Regions from separate parts of the Homo sapiens genome. Here region 2 is linked to region 1. A link means that fine-mapping ties the variant in region 1 to the expression of a gene that starts in the linked region. Tissue or cell type: subcutaneous fat. Region 1 holds a variant in brackets; the other region holds the start of a gene. All regions are shown on one strand. Distances are from middle to middle.

What was found. PIP is the estimated chance that this variant, and not a neighbour inherited with it, causes the effect.
Region 2: it holds the start of HOXD3, and the variant in region 1 is fine-mapped to the expression of HOXD3 in subcutaneous fat (GTEx, PIP 0.95).

Annotation. Positions count from the first base shown.
Region 1 is chr2:177,122,755-177,131,017 of GRCh38, reverse strand. All of the region lies in intron 1 of LOC105373760 (a long non-coding RNA gene), which reads left to right. Among named protein-coding and RNA genes, the nearest start is that of MIR4444-1, 86 kb to the left of the region's middle. The variant G/A (reference allele first, on the strand shown) is at 3,596.
Region 2 is chr2:176,153,598-176,161,597 of GRCh38, reverse strand. It overlaps HOXD3 (homeobox D3), which reads right to left and starts at 4,291. Exons shown (of 4, transcript NM_006898.5): 1 at 4,146-4,291. RefSeq lists an enhancer at 5,828-6,331.

The DNA.
Region 1 (8,263 bases):
CTTCTAGTTCTCATCAGGACCAGGATCGAGGACCAGCCCTGGGTCAAAAACATAGGATGTGGGTGAGCACACAGTGGGGCACTGGGCAGTACGGACTGAGTCACCAGACAGTACCTGAGCCATAGAGGGCTGCTGCTGGGGAGGAAGCAGACAGAGGTGCAATGGAGGTGAATGTGCCACGCTAGAGTCAAGCGCCTTCATCAAGATTTAAGGAGAGGGGGAGTGAAGGACTGGAGTAGAAACCACAGGTACAGACATGGAGAAGGTAAGGCCGTTACAGCCTGAGGAGAACAGCGGAGGTTTTAAACGCCTGGCAGGTCTCAGTGGAACTGCTTCCTCAACTCACAGATTAGCTTCTTTTTACCGACTCAGCTTCCTTTCCTGATAAGCCCAGTTGCCATGTAGACTTTGTCAGAATTTAATGCTCTCTTTAAACCAGTGGGTCTCAATATCATTAGAATCATGTGGGAAGCTTTGTTAAAAAGAAAAAAAAAGATGCCTGGGTTCCACTCACCTAGGTCAACAGAATCAGAATCTCTAGGGAGGTGGAGGTGGCATAGGGTTGGTGGAGTTGGGCCCAGGCATATGTGATTTCTTTAGAAGTTCACCATGTGATTCTGATGCCCAGTGAAGGTCGAGAACCATTGCCTTCAGCACTCTTACTTTGAGTAAACAGGATCATTCCCCGCTTTTGAGATTTAAAATTTTAGAATGCTGCAGCTAGATAATACTTTGTGGCGGTGTTTCTCAAACTTTCATGTGCATGTGAATCACCTGGGGATCCTGTTAAAAAGCAGATTCTGGTTTAGGTGACTGGAAGTGGGGCCTAAGCTGTGGCATTTCTCACTCATGTCCCTGTGACATGGGAGCTGCTGGAGTGAGGACCACCTTGATTGCAGTGGAGCTTTAGATCGAATACAGATGGAATGCTGCCTCTGTGCCAGACCCTGTGCTTAGTGCTGTACATTCAGTGCATTCTCACAGCCTCTGAAAGAGGTACTGTTTATAATTCCATTTTACAGGTACGTAAACTAAGGCCTAGATAAGTTAAGTATCTTGTTCAGGATAATAATGCTGGTAAGTAATAAGAGGCAGAATCTGGATCTAGATGGTCTGATTCCAGAAACTGTGAGCTGAACCACAATGTAATACCACTTCAAAGGCAGGATGGGGCTCAGGGGAGGACCTGCAGTTGGAAGAGGTGTTCAAGGACTTGTACTGAAGCTGTGTTTGTATAACAACAAGGTTTTGTTTTCATTTGAGATAGCCCCTGGAAGAGGCGAATAAAAACAGGTATTACAGAGGAGCTAAAGCACTCTAAGCCACTCCTTGGCCTGTCCCTGTAGGCCATGCCTTCATGTTGCTGGGCAGGAACAGGAGTTCATTGCAAGGTGTATATCGCAATTCAGTGGCAATATATTTCAGGTGTCACTGTATATCTCATAGATAGCCAGGTGGCTTCTGACCTTGTGATGACTTTGTTGTCAGAACTGAGGCCCCTTGGATTGTCATGACCTGGCCCTTGCCTGCTTTTCCCCCTCCTCTTCCACAGCTGCCTCCCTGACTTACCCAATGGCAAGCTCTAGACACATTAACTGCTTTCAGTTCCCTGACGGTATCACAATTTTATACTTCATGAATGTTGTCTTCTCTATTGGATGTCTTTGTTATCCTTTTCTTGCCAGGTTAAATGCTACCTTGTTCAACATCCCGGACAATGTAGTTCTTTCAAAAAGAATTTTCTAACCCTCCCAGCCAGGATTAAGTAATTCCCCTCCTCCTTTGGTCTGTCATAGTCCCCTGTTTCTTTTAATTAGAGCACTTAAGTAATTTACTTTTCTATTTAGTCAGACGGTGAACCTCTCTAGGGCTGTGCTTCATTTATCTTTGCATCCCAGGGCTTAGTATAGTATTCAGTAGGTGGTGAGAAGGCTGACAAGCATGTGTATTGAATGAATGAGTGACCCTTTTATTCCCAGTCCAGTGTTCTTTCCAACTGATGATTTGACTAAACTAGTAGTTTTCAATCCTGACTGTAGGGTTTTTAAAATAATCTGGATCATACCCAAGTCAGCTAAATCACAATCTCTTGGGGGTGAGGCCTAGGCATCTGTGTTTTTAGCAAAGTTCCCCAAGTGATTCTAAGATGTAGCCAGGTTGAGAACCAAGGGATTAACCTTTCAGAGTTACTCTTGCTGTGGTTGGAGCATAATAGTTGAAAGTAACATAGAGGAAAATTGTTGTCTGTCTTCAAAACTGAAAAGGAGAAATAGAAGGAAATATATGGGTAAACTGATCACTTACCTAGGCCTTTTGAAAGTAAATATATAAAACAACAGCATTTTAAGGCTGGGATAAGGAAATGTCATAAAACCCAATAATCAATTACGAAGTATGACACTTCTAAAAAGTTGGGAATCATTTTTCTAAAATTATATTAGTATATCATCCCAATCTGTGCTTTTTTGGCTATTTTTATCCATATATCATTTGCCTTGAGTGCTAGTGAATGATCTTTAAAGGCTTTCAACAAATGACTCACCATTCTCTTACTTTATAATATAGTATGCTAATTGGCAGTCATCTTAGGAGTGTTAAAATATGGCAACAATAACATGAAGTTAATTGTAAAGAAAGGGAGTTGGCTCTTTGTGGCTCTAGATCATTCCAGGTATGAGCAGACTTGTAAATACATCTGTTTATTCATTCTCCATGCAAACATTTGGTACTTATCTTCTCTCGGACAAAGTGCTACATATTGGAGGAAAAAGGGTAATATAAGACACCCTCCCAGAAGTTCTCTGTCTTAAATATGAATAATTAACAGTGCACCATGATATGCACAATGGAGGTCCACTCCAATGAGCACAGGAGGGAAGACGTGTCAGGGAAGGTTCACATGAAGCTCACCTACACGCACATAATATACAGCAGTGGTGTCAGGGCACGGATGACATTTCAGATGGTACTGAAAGGACAGCTCCAGGCACACAGCCCAGGTTGGTGGGATCTTGGCTCATTGCAGCCTTGACCTCCCTAGGCTCAGGTGATCCTCCCACCTCAGCCTCCTGAGGAGCTGGGGCTACAGGTGCCGCACCACGCCTAGCTAATTTGTGATTTTTGGTAGAGAAAGAGTTTCAACATGTTGCCCCGGCTGGTCTCAAACTCCTGGGCTCAAGCAATCTGCCTGCCTCAGCCTCCCAAAGTGCTGGGATTATAGGCATGAGCCATCACGCTCAGCCTGATGTGTTTGTGTTTGATTAAATCCATGGCACAAGATTTAATGTGGCATTACAAATGCTGTAATCTCAGCATTTTGGGAGGCTAGGATGGGAGGCTCAGCATTTTGAGAGGCTGAGATGGGAGGCTCAGCACTTGAGTCCAGGAGTTTGAGATCAGCCTGGACAACATAGCAAAACTCTGTTTCCACCTTAAACAAAAAACAACCATAGCACATCCTAATAGAGTTTTATTGGAGACTCACTCTCAAAAAGAGCCCTAAAAGAATTAAATAATGGTATTTAACTGACAGACACATGAAAAAATCTGGTTTCATATCTCAAAGTAACACTAACAGTTTCTTATGCCAGCAGAG[G/A]AAGATCATGTTTTAGAGAGATGGAGGTTTGACCATCTTCAGATAGTGACCTGCCCTTGCAGTACTTCAGAGCTCATCAAAGAGAGGAAGAGAAAAATGGAGTCACAGACTGCCAATTACTGCTTTTGCCTGGAAACAATGCATTTCACTTCCTTTTCTCATTTCATTGGCCAGAAATAATTACATAGCTATGTATAAAATAAGGGGGATGGGGGAATTATAATCTTTGTGTGTCCTGAAGTGGAGAACACTTGAATACGGGGGAATGTTACTAATGTCTACCATAGTCAGTCTCTTCAGCTTCACCCATGTGTGTTGGAAATAGAAGGGTGTGCTCTTCAGACATGAAGAAGAAAAAAATGACTTCATTACTATTGGTTATTATTCTTTTTATATTCTAATATATGTAGGATTGTTGCCAATAAGATTTTTATTTAAGATTGGTAGCAAGACCGGTCTTCATCAATATTAAAACAATTATTTTAAAGCTTTGAAATTAAGTTAAAGGCTATTACTTAAAGCAGCATGAATACGAATTCCAAGTAACAATCAGTATGATGATTGCCTTACTAAAATAACTTCAATTGAATCAATGTGCCCATGTGGAACACCTAGGGATTACAGGAGCAACTTCCATATAGAAGTTACCTCAGTGAGCTGGTTTCAAGCATGAGCCAGCAATGCAAATGCAGGCATATCACTTAAAAAAAAAAAAGAGATGAGGTCTGTCTCTCTCGCCTAGGCTGTAGCACAGTGGCAAAATCACGGCTCACTGCAGCCTAGAACTTGTGGGCTTAAGGGTTCCTCCTGCCTCAGCCTCCCAAGTAGCTGGGACCACAGGTGTGTGCCACCACACCTGGCTAATTAATTTTTTTTTTTTTTTTTTTTTTACAAACAGGGTCTCACCATCTTGCTCAGGCTGGTCTTGAACTCTTGGCCTCAGGTGATCCTCCCACCTTGGCCTCCCAAAGTGCTGGGATTACAGGCATGAGCCACTGTGCCAATGTGCCTGGCCCATTCGAAATACAAGATATATGCATTGTTTTGGTTTTTTAAAATTGCTTTCAAAATCTCTCACACACTACCACTTCTTTCCCCACTGTAGTCAGGAAGGAGGCAAGATTTGGGGAAGAGAAAGGATGGAATCCACTCAGGCTAGTTTTGGTGGAAGTAAAACAGTTTTCTAAGGAAAAAAGGGAACTACACTGTTTCTTTCTTTCCTCCTCCTTGGCTAACGTGTCAAGTGGTTAGGGGACCGTTATTCCCCTCCTTAGCTGGCCCTCTGGAGACTAGCGCTGTCCAATAGACCTTCCTATCCCTGCAATAATGAATATGGTAGCCACTAGGCACAGACGGCTATTGAGTACTGGAAGTGTGGCTACTGCAACTGAGGAACTAAACTCTAATTTTATTGAATTTACTAACTTTAAGTAGCCATGTGAATTCAGGTGATAGGAGAGAGGGAGGTTGTTCTTATTCCTGTTTTCGGTGTAGATTTTTCTGTACATCACAATGATTTTATCTTCCACACAAGATGTTGAAGATGAGCTGAGTCAGTGGGGGATCGGGTGGGAGTGAAGCGTGGACCGAGGCAGAGCCTGCTGCAATGCCTCCCTTCCTAGCCAGTGCAGACCAGGCTCCCTTCATGATCACTGGCGGACAGGACCAAGTGATGCCCAAAGACGGCACAGACACTAAAATGGGGACGATTACATGAATCTCAGACCTGATTTTGTTTTAAAGCCTATGACTTAGGATATGAGAAAAGAAGAAAGAGGCAAATAAACCTAGTGTGGTAACCTTTTAACATAGCATTAGCATCCATTTTTTCATAATATATTTGGATATAAAATCTTTATTGTGCTCAAAATTCTTATTAAAAATGCAGTGAACTGTAGTTTGTACATTTGCAGCCTCTCATTCCTCAAATTGTTCTTTTGTAAGAAATAATTTCTTTGATGGTCATTGTTTAATGAAAGACATGGGCAGTTATAAAAGAAAACTAATGTCATCAAACATTCATCTGGTGACTCCTATGTGCTGGTGCTATGCTAACAATGAATGGCACTTTGCAACACTAATTTTTAGCAAAATAACGACTTCTTAGCTGTAAAGTCCCCATGGGTGTGTGTCCTAGAGGCATATATTCTTTTCTATCTTTGTCTACGGTTCATTTTGGAAAACACCTACTTTTATTACACGATTGTAAAAATTAGTGCTCATATTAAACAATTTAATGAACCGAAGTGCCTCAGTCCTTTCGAAGCCTGACTGGCCTCCTCTAGATCTTTGGGCAGAGGTCAATGTAGAGTGATTTGCTGAAATGCTTGGATTTTATTCTTGAGATTTAACATGAAGGCAAGTGAGTGAAGTGAGGTAGGAAAGCACGTATGATTTCAAGATAATCTGATTTTTTAAAAGATAGAACATTTCACTTTCTGAATTAAAATTATCATCTTAAATAACCTTATCTCAAAGGAAGTCCTATTCCAAACATAATATCTAACAACATCAAATTTTTTTCTACCAGTACATACGTATAAACAGGAAAACTATTTTTTAGCGGAAAGTTAATTGTTGATACCACCATATTTGTACTCAAATGCAAGACCATTTCTAGTTCCACCCTCCCCACCGTACATTCCAGAGCCCACCTTTATTTTACCCTGACATTGTACCAGCATAAAATTCCAATATGCTAATTACTTCTCCAGATCATGCCATAGTTCTGATGCCATAAGACAAATATTAAAGGTTTACTTTTTATGTTCAGAATAATTGGGTAATTGTCGTCATCCTGTGACAGGTTTCCCTTTTTCCTGAGGTCTTTTGACTAATGGTTCTATTGTTATTGTTGGAGTGGCTCATGCCCCATTGTGTCATGACGCAAAACTTGATCTGTGGTAGAAATGCCTTACACATTTATTCCCTCCAGGAAACCAAAGGGCAAGAAAGTAACATTCCAGATTGAGAACCTGGCTTTTTGCACCATGACCTAACCTGTTCCAGGTGAAAAATATTAGGCCAAAAATAGTTTCATGAGAAAATTTTTACGTGAGTTCCTGCAGTGGTTCTCAGTACTAGCTGCTTGTTAATTAGTTAGTTAATTGATGGGCAGCTTAAAGCAATCACTATGTGGGCCCCACCTGAAACTTGTTAAAAAAGACTGATTTCTGGGGGCCCCATTATATGCTGTTGAAATTTAGACTCTCCACAGGAGGGTCCTGGGTATCTGTACTTTAAACAAAACTCTCAGATTATCAAATAAATTTGGTCAACTTGATTTAAGGTATTGATCTTGGGAAAGAGCACTTCATACTTTTTTTGAAATAAACTTAGTGGCCTTCAAGACATATTTCTAATGCCAGTATCTTACTTGTCTTCTTTTACTTATTTGCATATGAATACTATTAAAGAAGGAATATTTAACCATAGAGAAGGTTTGTTTACATTTTTGTCTTCAGCCAAATCAAGCCTTTCATAATTTTATGTATTAAAAATAAAATTTAGATCAGACTCCCATCTCTACAAAAAATGCAAAAATTATTGTAGCCAGGTGCGGTGGTATGTGCCTGTAGTCCCAGCTGCTTGGGTGGCTGAGGAAGGAAGATCGCTTGAGTCCAGGAGTTTGAGGCTGCAGTGAGCTATGATTGCATCACTGCATTGCAGGCTGGGCAACAGAGTGAGAACCTGTCTAAAATAAATTGCATTTTCAAGTTGTACTTTCAGCAGCACCAGATAGTATGCTGGAGCTCAGAGGCCAGGAGAGGAGCACTTTCCCTCTACTTATTATAAGAGGTAACTTAATACTGATGGAGGAGTGTCTTGGGTTCTTACACTTGGAGACCAATTTGTCATTCCATTCAACACAAAATAACAAGGGATTCACTAGTTCATACATTATTTCTATTCAACAAATGTCGTTTGACTGTCTACTGTATGCCATACTGTGTTAGGTATCAGGGATACAAAATAAAGTAAATTGGGATTTTTTTCTTGTTAGAACTGGTAGGTTAGAGCAGATATTCTTAAGGTGTGATCTCTATCCAGCAGCATTGGCATCCCTGGAAACTTGTTAGAATTGCATATTCTCTTGCCTTACCCCAGACCCACTAAATCTGATTCTCCATAAAGCTTGAGAACCACTGGCCTCTAGGAGGAGCGATCAGTTCAGCAGAAAATTAGAGTACCTTGTGGTAGATACAGTGGAGATGGGGAGGAGGCTAGGACTTTAGGAATGTTTCTGGGAGGAAGAGATGCTTGAGCTCTCTAAAATATTTGGTGCAGAGTGGGGGGAGGTGTTCCTAGAGAGGTCAGCAGGAGCCACACAAAAAGCCATGTTGCATTTTACTCTGAATGCAACATGGAATCTTTTGGACCCTATAGTCAGTTCATTTACAATTATCATCAATGTGATCTTTTGACCAGACTTTTAGCTAAGTGGTGCTGGTCTTGAGCTCTGTGTTTCAGGTGCTTCCTCAGATATGGGAAGTTAGAGAAATGCAGGTGTAAAAAATTCCTCTCGCATTAAAATCTAACACAGTAGTGTTAAATAAAGATTTGGTGAATAAACACAAATAAATGAAAGAGTGGATAAAGCTAGGATTTGGGGAAGGTAAGGAAAATGTGTAATGAAAACATAGCAGCATAAGCACTGGTTTTTGAGTG
Region 2 (8,000 bases), 970 kb after region 1:
AATGCAGGGAGCTGGCTGACCACCGAGTTTATTTTAAATACATATAAATCAACCCGCCTGCACCCAGCCCGGCAGCTCAAGACACAGAATTAATATGACGCTCCATCTTACTTTGGCAGTAAAGTGTAAAAAAGTTTTAATTTCTTTTTCAGCCCATTCTCCTAAGTGCACATTTAGCCCCCAAATATTTCCTCCAGCACTCAATCCCCTCACCAGATCCCCTCCTTAAACTGCTACTACCACCCCCAATGCTGCCGGCCACCCTCCAAGCCTGGCAAGGTAGTGTCCTCCTAACCCTTTGGTAGGCGGGGAACGTCCCCACAAAGCGCGCCTTGTTACGATTAATCACCGTCCTCCATGTATATGTAGCAGTGTATCTAGGTCTACGCGGGCTGCCTCACCAATTGGCAATAATCAAGATCACAGATTACACAAAATAAATCATATTTAATATCCCGCTCAGGGCGGCAAGCAGCCCCGTGCCCAAAGATTTCCATTTTGTCATGCAATTGCTTACCTGGATCCCAATTTATCATAAACCTGGTGTCCTCGGCCTCAGAGTGGGCGCCAGTGGGGGGCAGAGCTAGCCTTCCCCCTTTGTCTGCAGACAACACTGTCCCAACCCTGGTCTTGCGCGCTCGCAGACACGGCCATATACTCGAGCACACGGAATTCCCGGTAGAACGGAACCAGGCTGAGGTTCAACTACCAATAAACGCAGGAGGAACGAGTTCGTAGTCCCCGAGCTGGCTTCGCCTGCGCTGCGCGCCCATCGGTCCACCCGCCCGCCCGTCCGCTCTCGGGCCCAGAGCGGCAGCCACCCGCGCCCCCACCCACTCCTGGGTTTCTGCCCAGCCCTCCCAGGCCCCCCAGAGCTTGGGATTTGTTTTGCTTGCGGAACGTGGTCGTTTCTGGATTTGGAGAGAGCCCCGGAAACCCCCTCATAGTCGGGAAATACAGACGCTGCCTTCAAATGCAAGCATATTTGTTCACGTGACCCCGAGGGAAGCTTGTACTGATTGAGGCTGAAACTTTCACGCCACCCAGTCCCGGAGCGCAGCCAAGCCTGGGGGCTGGAAGGAAGGGCGCAGGAGGCTTGGGACCTGGGCCCCATTCCTGGGGCAGACGCGGATGGGTGTGGGGCGGAAGGAAAGAACACATTTTCGCAGCTCCGGGCCGACTCAGTCTTGGCCTGGCCGCCCTCAGTGGGTTGGGGGCGTTGAGAGTCTCTCCCCACAACGACCTCTGACCCTGGCTGGGCCTTCCGCCAGACTGGTCCGGGAGCTGGAAATTTTAGAAACTGCCTCTCTTAGAAGCGTCTCTGGAGACTGCCGTGGAGCAGCAGAGGCTGAGGGTACCCCTAGCTTCCCGGGCCCGCGGAGTACTCCGCAGCCTCATGCACCCCGGCAAGGCGGCCTCCCCGCCGCGGAGGCCGACGCCCAGCTCCTCCCAGGGCGAGGACCCGCTCCGGCCCAAAGGTGGAAGCCGCGACTCTCAGCTCTGGCCAGTCACCTCAGAAAACCCCGCCACCACCACCATTCCGTGGCTCGTTCCGCGGACTCAGCAGCCGAGTCACCGCCACTTCTGAGACAGAAAAGGCGCGTAGCAGGCGACCCGGACCCAGAGCGACCTCCCCTCTCTGATCCCTGAGCACCCCAACCTGGTCCTTCGAGGCCTGGAGCCGCCTAGGCGCTGAGCCACTGCCCGCCGTGATCTGTGCGACTCCAGGTCTGGGCAGGACCCGCAGATCCCACAGGCCCAGCAACCGCCAAGCCGCGACTTCCCGCTTCCTGCGGCGCCTCCAGGAAGGCGAGGAGGACTGCGCAATGAGTCCTGGCTGGGCTAACCTGGGGGACAATGAAACTTATATTTTAGAAATATTAAACCAAGACAGATTCCCACCACTCTCCGAGTGGCTGGTGGGAATGATTCTGCAATGTGGGAAAAAAGAATTAAGCGTGCCAGCGCCAGCAGCGGACCTCCTGGCCTGTAATGAGCGCCCAAGACCCTCCCCCAGCCGGGGCCACACTCGGGAATCCCGCACCACGGGGAACTCTCCACCCTGTCCCCGAAGTTTTGGTTTCGTTGCCAGCTCTGCTCAGCGGCATCAGGCACAGTGAAATGCTCTGTTGCTGATTGCAGGGTCTGAGACCGGTGAAAGTGCCCAGCAGCCATAGAAGAGCCCCAGAGGAGTGGGTAAGGTCCACCGCATCCCCACTCCAGAGGCGCAGGAATGTCCTGGAGGCCCGAGCCCCCAGAACCGTCTACGAGCCCATCCTTTTGTTCACCTGGCCGGGCCTGGCCAGAGGCCCACTCGGGGCGTCTCTCGAAGCCGGATCGTGGGTGACCCCAGCCCACCCCCACCCGGAGGACCCCGCCCCCTAGCCTCTTGCCAGAGGCCGACCTGACGGCCAGCAGCAAGTGTTAATCCCCAGCCAAAGAGGGGGGCTGCTTTGCGGGAATTTGTCTCCAGGAAAGGATCTAAGCCTTCTTCAATCGGAGCATATGTTCATAGAGCAATAAACCGGAAAGATTTACAGTCCTCGCCCGGCCCCCAACAGTCTCGCACCCTTTCAGGAATTACTTACGATGATTTATCACACCAACCCGGGCAATTGTCACACTGATAAAATAGCCCGGGCCAGTGCCCGCCAAGCCGGGGCCTTGGGAGGCTGTTGGCTGCCGGGCTGCCAGCAGGGCTGGGGAAGCTTTTTGTGGGTTCCTCTCTGGGCCTACAAGGGGATATCTAGGTGGGTTGGAGTGGGTTGGAGTGGGGGGGGTGGGAGGGGAGACGATTCTCATTGAGAAAAATGCAAGCAGCTCAGAGAAAGCGCCTGGAATCTGCGCCCGAGTCACTCGCAAAGCACATAAACATTTGTCATCTTTGAATAATTGAATTAATGTGTTATTGTTTGAATGTATAATTCATAATGGGGGAAACTTTGTTTCTGTCCTGACGGGGAAATATACACACACCAAAAAATAAATGAAAACACACACACACACAAACACACACGCACACATAATCCCAAAACAACCACCACGCGCAGCCAGCCCCTGCTCGCTGAAATCATTCTGAAAGCCAATGGAGGTATCTCACAGCAACAAGAGGGAAGGAGGCGAATGAAGAGGCGCCCGGGTCGGAGCTGCAAGCTGGAAGAAAAGAATGCTCGCTACTGCCCCAGCCCACGACCCTGGCAAGCTGGGGATGGGGTGGAACGGAGCGGAGTGGCTCTTAGGACACCCAATTTTCTTGGAGTGCCGGTGAAAAAAGGCAGAAACGGGAGCGAGCAGAGAAACAGCCTTCTGCAGCCCGCACTGGCCTCTCCCCCATCCTCCTTTCCCCAGGCTTCCCGTCGCCCCGGGGTCTCCCACTCGGGCTGCAGGGACTTCTTCTCGCGTTTATTTTAGCTCTTCCAAAATAGAAATAAAAAATACAAACACAAAAATAAACGGGAAAGAAGAAGAAACTCGCTGGGGTGACAGAGGCAGCAGAACTTGGGTGGGGAGAGAGGAGCGGGGGGAGAGGCAACTCGGAAATCATTATCTGTTGGTTAAAACCTGCCTGGGGTAAAATTTCAACTCGATTTTATAGCCTTCTATTATGACGCAAAGAAAAATTTACGACCCTCGCTTGAAAAGAGGGCCAGGGCCTTTTCTCACCGGTTTAAGAATAGGCGGCAGATGCCGTGACAGCGACCATTGTTCCTGGTAGACACAGGCGACCAGGCAACCTCGGCCCGCGTGCGCCAGGCGCGTCCGCCAGCCGGGCCGGTTTTTTACAACTCCTGTTGTCTTGGAGCAGCCCGCGTGCACCTCGCCCCTCACCCCTCGCCCCCTGGCACCCTAGCGCCTCGCACACACACCCTCTCCCTATCTCTGTCTCTGTCTCTGTCTCTCCCTCTCTCACACACACAAGCGCGCGCGCGGACGCACGCACACACACACACACTCGGCCGCTCTCAGTAATTTTTCATAAGTGCAAAGCTTTGCTGAACCAAAGGTCACCATCCAAGCCACTAACAACTTCTCGCCGGCGCGCAGTTCCAAATCAGGAAGCAAAGGGAACTATTTGTCAGCGGCCGTGACAGCTAAGTTCATTAAGGATTTAAATCTGATGAAATAAAAGTTGCCAAAATATTTACCTGCGGCCGCGCTCCCGCGCCCGCCGGGGGCCGGGGGTGGAGGGCCGGGGGCACCGCGCGGCCCCCCTGGACGGGTGATATTCTTGGGATCCCTGCACTTTCCAAGTCGGAGAGAGCCCTTTGCGTGGCAGATTAATGACGACTCCGTGTTTCTTAAGGGACGTGCTGAATTAATTATTTCGCCAATCACGTGGTCGGGACTTGTAGAAATCTATTCTTATCATCTTCCTCGCACTTAGAAAATTCTCCGGGTTATGAAAGGCCCTCCCCCGGCTGCCAGCGAGCCCCGGCCGCCCAGCCCGGCGCGGGGGGCAGGGAGGGCTCCCCAACATGGCGGGCAGGCGGGCGGGAAGCGCCGTCCGCCGAGGGTCCCGATTTACTGTACTCTATACTCAGCGGGCTCTGCTATGGACTCGCTTCCTCCTCATCCCTGCCCGCGATTCAATACACACAACGGTATTGATGTATTGGTGGGCACGGGAGGAGCCATTAAGCAGAAGACGGGCAGAGGACAATCATAAAATGTGTCTGAATATTTAAACTTCTGCCTGCGCACTTATAAATACACATGTCCACGCGTCTGGGGCAAGCCCTTCCATATATTAAGGACAGATGTCTGATTTTATGCATTCTGCTCATTTCCTGTCTGGAACAAGCACCCCCATCTATTTTGGGACTCCTGTCTTGGCCCCTTCTTCAAGGCGAGGCCAAGATGTAAAGAAGCCCTTGCGGTAAATGTAGTGCAGGGCACTTTTTATAGTGGGGAGTGTTTATTGTTGCCTGAGGGGTGGAGGGGGCGCGGAAGAAGGAGGGGCAGGTGCTGGAGTCCCCACAGGAGCTTAACAGTACTGGAAAAGTAGAAGCCCAAGAGTGGAGGCCCGGGGGTCAGGTCAGAGCAGCCACCCAGGAGCCTCAGCTCGGCCCAGAACCCAGCACGCTCTCCCTGCCTTAGGGGTGGGGGACCAGTAAGGTGTCTCATCCACCACTTCCCAAAGACTTCCTCTGAGGGCTTCCAGACCAAAAAGGTCTGGGGCCTGGCCCGGGCCCAGCAGAATGCCAACCTGGATCCCCCTATTAACCTGGGCAATTACTTTTTCTTCAAAAAATTAACACCCAACACTCTGTACCCTGAATTCAACCCCAGGCTTCCCAATGCTCACAAAATATGGTGGCCAACTGGGAGTGTGTGTACATTAAGGAGGTGGTAATAATAGAATTGCTAAGCCTTACATGGTTTAACCTTCACACTTTAGGCACCCCCCAAAAAATGGTGCCTAATTTATTGCAGAAAATAATAACTTGTTTATGTTAAATGTTAGCTTTTAGAAGACTTAACAAAGGATGAATGCTTCTGTTAAGGCACCAAACAGGAGGGAGATTTTGCTACACCTTTTATTATTTTAAATATAGATCAATGAATTACATCAAAACTACAAGCAACAATTAGTATAAATAATACTTTAATCAGTGGCAGCAAAACATTGGTCAATTCTATTAAAAAAGCATCTCGTGTGAACAGACATCATGGGCTGACTGACAGTGTCATCTCCCAACAAAAGGCTGCGATGGACAAAGTGAGATGGGAGTCAGAGGAGCAATGTCCTCAGCAAACACTTCACTCTCCCCCTCCCCCAGTCAGGACCCCAACACGGTTTTTGTTTTTGTTTTTAAAACACCAACACAAACACTTCTGGCTCATATTTAAAGGAACAAACTGGAAACAAATAATAGCAAATGGGCATTGGAGCTTTTCCACACCTAGCTTTCTCCAAAGCACGTTCTCAGATGGAAACCCATTTCCTTCCCTGCCCTAAGTGGTTACGGGGCCCTACCCCTTCCCTGGCCCACTCCTGTGGGCCCAAATGGATGCTGGGGTCCGACTGGGACCTCAGGGTTGGGGGCTGCACTCTGGGCCATCCAGGCTCCATTAACATTTCAAAAGAATCCCTCCAAGCTGAGAAGGAGAGCTGAGACTTATAAACAAAGAAGTTGTTTCTCTGATTAAGTTACTTTCCAAAGTAGTGGGGCTATGTTTGAGAAGGAGCTTGGGTTTTCCTCATGAAAACATGTTTCTTGGCTTTCCTCTGGGGCAGGGATGCAGTCAGTTAAGCCTGTGTGGCATTTGGTATGAAACTGGGGGTGAGTAACCTGAACTTCTGAGGTGGGGGAAAATCTATACAACAAATCTCTATTATATATATGTAATTGGATGTTGTGAAAATATATACCTTTTTCCCCTTCTCAAAGAGAAGGTTCAATGTATAGACAGATTTGGGTTTTAGGAAAGCAGCTTAGCAACTTTCCAACTTGCCTAAGGATAGCGGCTCCTTTCAAATGGTACATCCAAAGACTGCTCTCCATGTTAGAGAGGAAAAAAGAAGAGAAGGGTAGTTAGAGTCCAAAAGGTTAGGGGTTTAGAGGTCAGTCCTCCCGGCTGAAATACAGCTAATCAAATAGAAAATTTGTCCTCTGGATGAACCTGATTCTGTAATTTACCCGAACTTCGGTAAAATACCTTTTCAGCTTCTCAACGTGAGGGCGTCAGAAAAAAGACGTCTTGACTATGTATGAACTCTGTGCTTTTTGTCATAGAAACAATGATGTGAATAATGCACGAATATCCATCTTTAATATCCCGACGTGGTGACATTCAAGTATTGCCATGTGCAAGTCTGAGAGCCAGGCTCACCCCAAGGAGAAACAAAGAGCAGTCCCCAGGGTCTAATACAAAAGACCAAGGCTTGGAAGACACTTCAGAGAAGCGGAATTTCAGCCTAGGGACTGCAGTGAATACCTGCCCTCAGCTCTCAGGAGACACAGCCAAAGAACAAGCCTACAGAGAAACTCTTTTTTCCCTCCCACTTAAATATATTTTTTAAATTACAACAGAAACCTTCTAAAGTGTTTTTGAAGTACTGAAAAAAATACCCCCCTTCTGGATCTTAAAATTAAATTTTAAGCTTATCCTTTCTCCCTTTCCCACTTTGGTCACTTTTTGATAGCTACAACCTTTTTTGGAGCCTGAGGCCTTGGGAAGACTGGTTTCATCTGAGTATATGAACTCTGGCCATTAACTTTGACTTCTTCCTCCTTATGCTTGAGGGTCAGCATTTTAGAAAAATGAACTTTGAACCCTTCCCAGGAGAGGCAGAAGAAAAACGACTAGAGGACATCTCCCCTGTTGAGAGTGATTCTTTAAAAAACCACTATTCTCAAGGCAAAGACGAGTGCTTGAAAACTTTTATACTTTTACAAATTCTGCTTCTAATTAATGAGCTGAGGAAAACTTCCTTAGATTTGGTTTTTAAAAAAATTAAAACTTCAGGGGGAAAAAAACTCTAAGGCTAACTTTTGTGGACTTCTAGATTCAATTAGGGTTTTTTTTTTTTCCTTCTTAAAGCAAGAGTTCCTCACCTTCCCACTTTCTCCCCACTGCACAGCCCCTCCCCTACACAGGCCATACACTAATTCCTGTAAAACACTGCTATATGAGGGTATTTAGGGCATTTGGAATCCAGTTGGAACAGAAAATTCAGTCATTATCTAATGACCCAGTGCATAGAGGTTTTGTTTTCTTTCCCCAGAAGGAAAATGTTGGACCATTTGTTGGTTTTTTTCCCTTTCCTTTAATCACCCAGAACTGGTTGTAAGCACAGTGCTGAAAAAAACACATGTGGAAATATATTTTCAAGAATGCAACTTTGAGTGAATCCTTTGCTTCCTTCTGGAAGGGTTAAGGCCCCCCTATATACATTTCCAGAGAGTGGGGAGGGGTGGAGTTCAGAAGTAAGTGCACATATCTCTGATTCTGCTCCCTGAAGTTCAGCCCCTTTCACCTTTTTAAGATTTTTGGCA